Regions from separate parts of the Homo sapiens genome. Here region 2 is linked to region 1. The links come from fine-mapping of genetic effects on gene expression. A gene starts in region 1. The other region holds a variant in brackets. All regions are shown on one strand. Distances are from middle to middle.

Evidence for each region. PIP is the estimated chance that this variant, and not a neighbour inherited with it, causes the effect. A credible set is the group of variants that fine-mapping cannot tell apart.
Region 2: its variant is the best candidate, but not a certain one, in a credible set for the expression of KRABD5 in whole blood (TOPMed, PIP 0.85).

What each region holds. Positions count from the first base shown.
Region 1 is chr16:31,710,080-31,715,453 of GRCh38, reverse strand. KRABD5 (KRAB domain containing 5) reads right to left here and starts at 2,210. Exons shown (of 5, transcript NM_001130913.2): 1 at 2,019-2,210. The coding sequence starts at 2,021. RefSeq lists enhancers at 750-799, 1,924-2,043 and a silencer at 1,774-1,833.
Region 2 is chr16:31,683,480-31,688,853 of GRCh38, reverse strand. No RefSeq gene overlaps it. Among named protein-coding and RNA genes, the nearest start is that of KRABD5, 27 kb to the left of the region's middle. The variant C/T (reference allele first, on the strand shown) is at 3,027.

The DNA of each region.
Region 1 (5,374 bases):
GGGAAAAGATGGAGTAGGTAGTTAACCCTGGGAAGCAGCTGTGATGAAAGAAATCCCCCTTCCTTTTTGTTCTTCAAGAGCAGCTTACTGCAAAGAATCTTCTTCCTGTTATGACTTAGATGATGCTCCCTGTTTTAGGTATCACAAAGCCACAAACTCTCCTATTTCCTTTTTTTCCCCCTCATAAGCAATTAAATAAAGAGTTTTATCTTCGATGGTCAAAACAAAATATGTGTTAACCAAAGTTGCTTAAATTTCTCCCCTTCTCCAAGGTGCCTGAGGTTTGTCCCACCCACAGCCTGAGTCAACATTCAACCCCTCTTTATGCCCCTCCTAAGAACAGGCTGACTTCAGGGTGAAACATTCTCTGATCAGGGATCTGATTTAGTCCAGGAGTCGTGCCCTTCCCCTCCCACCTTGAATCATGTTTGCTCCTCCCTATGAAAGAAAGGCCTTTTCTGCTTCAACTGTGAGATCCACAAATATCTTACAGTTGGTGCTTTCCTCCTCTTGCAATACTCCTTTACAATTAAGGCACTTCTTACCTATATCCAGATGTTTTATTTGACCAAGTCAAGAAACAGCCCCAGGACACTAACAATTCCACCCTCAGAAAGAGCTTCCCAATCTCCCTTCCAGCCCAACCTCGACCACATCCGCCTGTGAATCCCCTGCTTTCCAGAACTCTGCAGCTTCTCCCAGTAACAAAGGGCTCCCTCCATGGCTGCTGTGAACCTCAGGGACACCTGAAGGGGGCGCTCCCCAGGAAGAACTAACTGGGCCTTCAATGACCTCCTTTTGCAGGCTCAAATAAGACTGAGGTCTTCTATGCCTAGTCAGGGTTATTCCACACACCCGCTTCTCAATTCGCAGGCTCTCTCTTTCAGGTCCATCGAGGTGGGGTGCCTTCTTCCCATCTCATCAGCTCTCCACAAGCATCTAGCGAGCTCTAAAACCTACCCCAGGATAGCAAACGTCAGACCTTCCTCCACTCTCCTGGCACTGCACGCCTTCTGGGGAGTGCTGCCAATCCTACCTCAACTGAAGGGACAGGAGCAGGTGCCCAGCCAGTCAGATGTTCAGTGACCTAACAGGTTTCAGGAAAATAGCAAAATCACTCAAAACAGTTTTTATAGAAAGGAAGGAAACTGTAAGGCACTTACACTTTATACTTCAACAGGTAAGGCCAAAATACCTCTTTCGAGCAAGAAACATGTCATTTAATTATTTCCATAATAGCAGATCATTTAGTATATGTGAACACTTCTAGGAGGTGCCAAGTCCTGTCTCATAACATTTGGCATTAAAGTCGGACATCCAGATAGCAGTAGAATATGGAACACAGATATCCACTGTCACAAATCCTCCACTGCAAAAGAGAGGACCTGATATTTTAATGAATGTTTGTAATTGACCAATTAATCTAGCACACTTTCTGTGGAAATGTATTCGTTTTCTACAGCCAAAGTGGAAGAGAGATTGTCCCTATTTCTTTTCCCCAGCAGCATTCCTAAGCTGAGCCCTGGGATTTTGAAATCGCTGCTCCAGAGGACCCTAAACCACAAACCACGGCGGCAGGCTTCCCATTTCACCAATCGCTGTTTACCTAAATCAACCCTTTAACGCTTTAAGGGTGACTCCCCTTAATTTGTAAGAGGAAAAAGGAGACTGGGACACCACGGGGCACAGTATCTTCCCACACACGAATCACACGCCGACCCGGGATTTCCCCTAAGACCCTCACGTTCTCACCGCACAATCTCGGGAGACGCCGGGCTGCGGCGACCCAAAGACGGCTCCGGCCATGGCAGAGGTCGCTCTGCGGGGTCGGGAGGGGACCGGACGCGCGGGGTCCCGGCTGCCGGCCCGGCCGCCATCTTGCGGCGGAGGGGACCAAGGGCCGAGTTGCGTCCGCGGGGACTCAGGGCCCAGACCCCGAAGCTAACCTCAAAGAGGGTTCCCGCCGCTTCCGACCGCCCCTCTCCCTCTTCTGGGGACCCCCGACCTGGCACATTCACCATTTCCCAGCTTCCGGGATGTCCTGGCGTCTGAGCTACGGATCTCCCGGTGCCTGCCGGTCACAGAGTAACAGAGGTTCTGTCTATTCTCAGAACGCGAAGCCGCCTTGGCCTCCCAGATGGAAGGACTGGGAGCCCCTGGTGAAGAGACTGAGCTCTTACTGCAGCCAACAAAGGCCACCGCCAAATCCCGGAAGCCGCCCCTGCTCTCCGGCTACTCCCGATTGGAGGATTTCCACTCCGACGCCACTGATTGGGTAAAGCTCCAGGCCCCGCCCTCTCACTCGTTCTGCTTTTTGAATGGGAGACAGGCTCATTGAGGTGGGGCCACCTGCTGAGGGTATTACAGCTAATTTAAGGGGTGAGCTTGGACTTGAAATGCACTTGCTTTCCCGTACCTGGTTTTGCTTGTATAAGGCATCTTATTAGCTAATTAAGTTTAAGAAGGAGGGCATTTGGGCACCTTTAAAACAACTTTTTAACCGTTCTAATAACACAGGAAAGACCCTCATCCCATCCTTAGCACCTCTCATCACACGGTACCCCACTGCTCAGGACATAACTGTGGGACTGCAGAGGAAACTGCTGGGGTTTTTGGGGAGCATGCAGGAGGCTTCAACAGCCAAGGTAACGGTGGCTTCCCTTGGGTGTCACTTAAAATCTTGGGGTCAGGGACATCTTTTATCCAGTTGGCTCAGGGAAACTAACAGACAGGAGGATTGTAATTTTTTTTTTCTTTTCTGAATTTCCAAGACATAAAGGACTATCCAAGCATCCCAAAAGGCATTCAATTATACATAAGGCTGAGGGCCTCCCTGCTCTGGAGAGGGATGGCCTGGCAGCCACCAGCTGCAGTGAGCTGAGATAGTGCCACTGCAATGGGCCTTAAACTTGCCCTCTTGTAGACAGGCCACCTCCACACACCCGCTTCTCACATCGCAGGCTCTAACCCTCCGGTCCATCAAGGTGGGCTGCCTTCTTCCCATGTCATTAGCTCTCCACAAGCATCTAGTTAGCTCTAAAACCTACCACAGGATAGCAAACGTCAGACCCTCCTCCACTCTCCCGGCACTGCACGCCTTCTGGGGAGTGCTGCCAATCCCACCTCAACTGAAGGGACAAATCTGGGCAGGTGCCCAGTCAGATGTTCAGTGACCTAACAGGTCCAGCATGCCCAGGGCCTGACCCCACAGCCTAGCACCCCTCCCCCACCTGGCCTTCAATCCAGCCTTTCTTCTCCAATGACGGGATGTTCACCTGTGCCACAATCCCATTAGTCTAGTGACGAGGCCAGGTAAATCCCAGCTGAGTGCCTGTGACTCCACCCTCTTACTTCCCACTCAGGTGACATTACAAGCATAACCTTGAATTTGAGCTAATTTATACATATTCCTCTCCTAGTAACCTGTTTGACAACAGCCCTCACAATCCAGAGACTGGGGCAGCAGGTTCCAAAACCTCACTTTATTCCAATGTGAAATGAAGACATGATGGTTTAAAAATGAGAAAAAGTTCCTGATAAGCTGTGGGGGTGCTTCACTTGCCAGCTCATGCCCATTCCCTCTGAAACAAGGTGTCTGTTACCCATAAACAACTCTCTGTAAAGCCCCAGGTAGAGGTCACAGCTGGACGTGGCTCCCTCAGGCTCACAGGGTAGCAATCTCCTCCCCCAGTCCAGGCTTCCACAGCAGGCACGGACAGGTGCAGAGAGGGAGTGGCCATGGCCTGTGGGGTCCCCTGCCACCCTCAGAGCTAGTCTCTGCAGAAGGTGCTGTGTGGTAAGCAGCAGGGCTCCACAGAGAGGTGACAACCCTTCCTGTGTCTGCAACCTTTCCCCAGGATCCATGATTCAACCCTGGCTCCCTAGGCCCCTTACCCAGCACACCCTCCGTGTGTCAGGCAGCTCAGGTTAAAATGGGGAGAATGATATATTCCGACTGTAGACCCGAAGGTTCTGTCCATCTGGGGTACAGGGAGTAGGGACGCCAGTCAGAGCCTGTGGTAGCGCCTCCTGCTGGGCCTGAGGGCAGACAGGCCAGGGCTGGGCACAGGGACATCTGGGGGACCACCACTGACAAACCTGTCCCTCTCAGCCTGGAGCTACGGCCAGGCCAATCATGATTAATAAAACCACTGCAGCCTTCATCCTGCCACAAAACTAAAGTGGACCCCAACCCCCAGCCCTGCCACAAAGCTCTGCTCCCCATCTTTTTTGGCTTAAAACTTAGACATTAAGCCAGGTTGGGCCTGGGAGTTGTGGCAGTAAAACCAGCAGCCATAACGTCAACCACGCAAATGAGCTGAGGAATCCCATCTGTACATCATCCACTCAGAACTGCCTCGGAGCAATGCACAGGCTGGGACAGATCAATACTCATGGCCATGGATGCACTCCACACCCCTGTTGGAAGATGGAGAGGCTGAGGGGAATATGGGGAGCCCGAGTGGCCCCTCAGCTGGGAACTGAGGACCGTACATGCCATTCACAGGTCTTCAATTAGGCCTTTGCATCTTTAGGCTTTGTTGAATCAGTGCAAAAGCATCTTTTGGGGGGCATGCAGGCTGGGGTCCCAGGAGGATGGTGGGAGTGGAACGTGGAAGAGGGGCTCACTTCCTCTAAACTGCGAGCATGCCCCCTTCTCCTGGAGTCTGCATCGCTAACATCAGGGCCGCTGACTCTCTCTCTCTCAATCCCTGCAAGCTCAAGGAAAAAGGATCCTTGGCAGCCACAGGGCTGGGAGCTCAGTTCCTCTGCCCCCAGGGGCTCAGATTCAGTGGCCATAGGGGTCCCCAGCCCTAGCTCTGTTTTTTTGGTTTTGTTTTTTTGAGACAGGGTCTCACTCTATCACCCAGGCTGGAGTGCAGTGGCACAATCATGGCTCACTGCAGCCTGGACCTCTCAGGCTCAAGCGATCCTCCACCTCAGCCTGCTGAGTAGCTGGGACTACAGGTCGCGCCACCACGCCAAGCTAATTTTTGCTTTGTGTAGATGGGGTTTCATCGTGTTTCCTAGACTGATCTCCAACTCTTGAGCTCAAGTGATCCACCCACTTCAACCTCCCAGAATGCCCTATCCCTGTTTTTCTGGATTCCTGGAGCTAGTGACGCTGCACCACCTCTGCTTTCAGATTCTCCTAGTCTTCTGGGTGAGTAGAAGGTGGGAGAGGAGGTAGGTGTCAGACTGGGCCAGGGCCCTGGGCCCCCGCTAGCTTGGTTAAACTCCCACTTGGGACAGATCAGGTTCCGTGCCATATTCAGTGAGACGCGTGGAACAAGTACTTCCCTCCCAAAAGCAGAAAGATCCCTAATTGCTGACAGTCAGGATTCCATGCACTTGACTCGGCCTAGGGCCCAGT
Region 2 (5,374 bases), 27 kb after region 1:
CTCTTCTTGAGGAGTATCTTTGTGGCATTCTCTATATTTCCTGAATTTGAATGTTGGCCTGCCTTGCTAGATTGGGGAAGTTCTCCTGGATAATATCCTGCAGAGTGTTTTCCAACTTGGTTCCGTTCTCCCCTTCACTTTCAGGTACACCAATCAGACGTAGATTTGGTCTTTTCACATAGTCCCATATTTCTTGGAGGCTTTGTTCATTTCTTTTTATTCTTTTTTCTCTAAACTTCTCTTCTCGCTTCATTTCATTCATTTGGTCTTCCATCGCTGATACCCTTTCTTCCAGTTGATTGAATTGGCTACTGAGGCTTGTGCATTCATCACGTAGTTCTCATGCCATGGTTTTCAGCTCCATCAGGTCCTTTGAGGACTTCTCTGCATTGGTTATTCTAGTCAGCCATTCGTCTAATTTTTTTCAAGGTTTTTAACTTCTTTGCCATAGGTTCAAACATCCTCCTTTAGCTCAGGTTTGATCATCTGAAGCCTTCTTCTCTCATCAAAGTCATTCTCCGTCCAGCTTTGTTCCATTGCTGGTGGGGAGCTGCATTCCTTTGGAAGAGGAGAGGCCCCCTGATTTTTAGAGTTTCCAGTTTTTCTGCTCTGTTTTTTCCCCATCTTTGTGGTTTTATCTACCTTTGGTCTTTGACGATGGTGATGTACAGATGGGTTTTTGGTGTGGATGTCCTGTTTGTTAGTTTTCCTTCTAACAGTCAGGACCCTCAGCTGCATGTCTGTTGGAGTTTCCTGGAGGTCCACTCCAGACCCTGTTTGCCTGGGTATCAGCAGCGGAGGCTGCAGAACAGCGGATATTGGTGAACAGCAAATGTTGCTGCCTATTCGTTCCTCTGAAAGTTTTGTCTCAGAGGATTATCCGGCCTTGTGAGGTGTCAGTCTGCCCCTACTGGGGGGTGCCTCCCAGTTAGGCTACTAGGGGGTCAGGGACCCACTTGAGGAGGCAGTCTGTCCGTTCTCAGATCCAAGCTGCGTGCTGGGAGAACCACTACTCTCTTCAAAGCTGTCAGACAGGGGCATTTAAGTCTGCAGAGGTTTCTGCTGCCTTTTGTTTGGCTATGCCCTGCCCCCAGAGGTGGAGTCTACAGAGACAAGAAGGCCTCCTTGAGCTGTGGTGGGCTCCACCCAGATCGAGCTTCCCAGCTGTTTTCTTTACCTACTCAAGCCTCGGCAATGGCGGATGCCCCTCCCCCAGCCTCACTGCCGCCTTGCAGTTTGATCTCAGACTGCTGTGCTAGCAATAAGTGAGGCTCCGTGGGCATAGGACCCTCCAAGCCAGGCGGGAGATATAATCTCCTGGTGTGCCGTTTGCTAAGACTGTTGGAAAAAGTGCAGTATCAGGGTGGGAGTGACCCGATTTTCCAGGTGCCATCTGTCACCCCTTTCTTTGACTAGGAAAGGGAATTCCCTGACCCCTTGCGCTTCCCGGGTGAGGCGATGCCTCGCCCTGCTTCGGCGCACACTCAGTGCAGTGCACCCACTGTCTGACACTCCCCAGTGAGATGAACCCAGTACCTCAGTTGGAAATGCAGAAATCACCCGTCTTCTGTGTCACTCACGCTGGGAGCTGTAGACTGGAGCTGTTCCTATTCGGCCATCTTGGTTCCACCCTTTTCTTTTCAATTAAAAAAAATTATTATATATTTATGAGATACAATGTGATGTTTGATATATGTATACAGTATGGAAAGATTCAATTGAGCCAATTAACATAGCCATCCACTCACCAATTTAGCATCTTTTTTGTTGTGAGAATATTAAAAATTGAATATTGTGATTTAAATGTACAATTCATTATTAACTGTGTTCACCATGCAGTACAATAGAACACACTTATTCCTCCAGACTAAATAAAAGTTTGTATCCTTCCATAAACATCTTCTTTTTCCGTATTCTTCCCGTCCCCCTGACCCAGCCTCTGGTTGCCACCTTTCTAGTCTCTTTTCTCTGTTTCTGTGAGATCAACCTTTTTGATTCCACGTATAGGTGAGATCATATAGTATTTGTCTTTCTATGCCTGGTTTACTTCACATAGCAGAATATCCTCTGGTTAAATCCAAGATATCACAGATGACATAATTTCCCTCTTTTTTATGGAAAAATAGTTCTCCAATATATATATACACCACATTTTCTTTTCTATTCTTTCTTTCTTTTTTCTTTTTCTTTTTTTTTTTTTTTTTTTTTTTTTTTTTTTTTTTTTGAGACAGGTTCTTGCTCTGTTGCCCAGGCTGGAGTGCAATGGCATGATTTCAGCTCACTGCAACCTCCTCCTCCTGGGTTCAGGCTATTCTTCTGACTCAACCTCCTGGGTAGCTGGGATTACAGGTCCCCACCACCATGCCCAGCCAATTTTTGTATTTTTAGTAGAGACGGGCATGTTGGCCAGGCTGGTCCTGAACTCCTGACTTCAAGCCATCTGCCCGCTTTGTCTTCCCAAAGTGTGGGATTACAGGCATAAGCCACCATGCTCAGCCCACAGTTTCTTCATTCATCCATTGATGGACACTTGGGTTGCTTCCATATCTTGATTATTGTCAGTAATGCCAAAATAACCATGAGGGTAAATATCTCTCTTCAATATACTAATTTAAATTCTTTTTGATATATACCACAAAAGTGGAATTGCTAGATCATAGGATACCTTTTTTTTTTTGATGGAGTCTCACTCTGTCACCAGGCTAGAGTGCTGTGGCGCATTCTCGACTCAGTGCAACCTCTGCCTCCCAGGTTCAAGGGATTCTTCTGCCTCTGTCTCCCAAGTAGCTGGGATTACAGGCATGCGCCACCATGCCTGGCTAATTTTTGTAGTTTTAGTAGAGATGGGGTTTCACTATGTTGGCCAGGATGGTCTCGATCTCCTGACCTCGTGACCTGCCCGCCTCAGCCTCCCAAAGTGCTGGGATTACACGCGTGAGCCACTGCGCCTGGCCAGGATACTTTTATTTCTAGTTTTTTGAAGAACGTCCATACCGTTTTCAGAATGGCTGTACTACTTTACATTC[C/T]CACCAATAGGGTACAAGAGTTTTCTTTTCTCCACATCTTTGCCAACACTTGAAATCATTAGTCTTTTTGATAAGAACCGTTCTAACAGGCCTGAGGTGATAACATTAACATTGCTTTCCTTTTTTCTCAATTAAGTGGTCAGAATTTTGTATTTAATGTCTTTAAATGGCCTCATACCTATAATCCCAGCATTTTGGGAGGCTGAGGCAGGCGGATCACCTGAGGTCAGGAGTTCGAGACCAGCCTCACCAACATGGTGAAACCAAGTCTCTACTAAAAATACAAAATTAGTTGGGCGTGATGGCGCTCACCTGTAATCCCAGCTACTCGGGAGGCTGAGGCAGGAGAATTACTTGAACCTGGGAAGTGGAGGTTGCAGTGAGCCAAGATCACACCACTGCACTCCAGTCTGGGCAGCAAGAGCGAAATTCTGTCTCAAAAAAAAAAATGGCCTCAAACTCCCACTGAAAATGATTTCTCATGGCATTAGCATAATTTCAGACTACTCATCAGAATGATGAAGTCCCATGTGAAATGACCTGGAGTGGGGAGGGCAGGGAGGAAGCTGCAGCCAGAACAGACAAAGGAGAAGGGCTGGGATGCCTGTGGAGCTAGTGGTGAAACTTGTGAACCCCAAGTACCTGAGATGGGTCTCAGTCAATTTACAAAGTTAATTTTGCCAAGGTTAAGGATGCATGCCTGTGACACAGCTTCAGGAGGTCCTGATGACATGTGCTCAAGGTGGTCAGGGCAGAGCTTGGTTTTATACATTTTTAGGGAGAAATGGGATATTAACCAATCTATGTAAGATGAACATTGGTTCAGTCCTGAAAGGCAGGACAACTCAAAGCAAAGGCATGACAAACGGTTACATTCTTTTTTTTTTTTTTTAAGATGAAGTCTTGCTCTTGTCACCCAGGCTGGAGTGCAACGGCACCATCTCAGTTCATTGCAACCTCCACCTCCCGGGTTCAAGCGATTCTCCTGCCTCAGCCACCCAAGTAACTGGGATTACAGATGCCTGCCACCACGCCCAGCTAATTTTCATATTTTTAGTAGAAAATATGAAAATAACTTTCAGCCTCTCTCCCTCCTCAGAGGTTGGGGTGGGGCTAAGAAATGGTCTGTTACAGTGAAATTGTATCTACAGTCAAGAGACTGTATCATCCAGGTGAAGAAGTGGCATTGCTTCTACATGTGGAGAGAGGATGCCTGTTCCCAGGCTGCAACACTGATTCTGTGGTGCAAGAATTCTGCTGGCTTCATTTTTGAATTCTTTCCAGTTCCTCTCTGTCTGTTAAATCAGTGAAAGGTAAATAAATATTGGAACCCCAAAATCACTCATCTAAAGGGAAAAGTCAAGTTGGGAACTGCTTAGGGCAAACCTGCCTTCCATTCTATTCAAAGTCATCCCTCTGCTCACTGAGAAAAATGTGTATCTTGTTGCCTCCTTTGGAAAGGCTAATTAGAAACAAAACAATGCAACCTTGGTCGGGCGTGGTGGCTCACGCCTGTAATCTCAGCACTTTGGGAGGCCGAGGTGGGCGGATCACCTGAGGTCAGGAATTCGAGGCCAGCCTGGCCAACACGAAACCCCGTCTCTACTAAAAATACAAAAATTAGCCAGGCGTGGTGGCGGGCACCTGTAATCCCAGCTATTCGGGAGACTGAGACAGGAGAATCACTTGAACCCGGGAGGCAGAGGTTGCAGTGAGCCGAGACTGTGCCATTGCACTCCAGCCTGGGCAACAGAGAGAGACTCCATCTCAAAAAAAAAAAAAAAAGAAAAGAAAAAAGAACTGAATTATACAACTCCCAGGCTATTGATTCAGAGAAATCTCCATACATTTTGGTGACAGAAGACACAGAAGTATTCTGTATTGATTGTCGAGTGAGGAAAAAGGAAAAACACTTTGGTTGATTTATTTTTTCTATATCTCTCTGAGTTAGAAAAGTGAAAAATAAGGTGGGGATGTGTATATATTAATGACAAAAGTTGTTCAAGAGAAAGATGTATCAAACTGGCATCTACAAAGGCGAAGTAAAATGGTTTTGATAAACTTATCCCAAGAAATGTGGAGAAACAGGTCTAAGAAACACATTCTATTGGAGGAGACCATCGTGTTTGTGAAAATCTCCCTGGGCAGTTCTCACACGCAGCCTGGGTTGAGATCTGCATCCCTAGAAGAAGAGGGTTATCTTTGTCATGCACTGTTCTGAGGAGAGGGGTGACCTTAGTGCTTCCTCATCTTGTTTTTTTTGAGACAGAGTCTCGCTCTGTCACCCAGGCTGGAGTGCAGTGGCACGACCTCAGCTCACTGCAACCTCTGCCTTCTGGGTTCAAGCG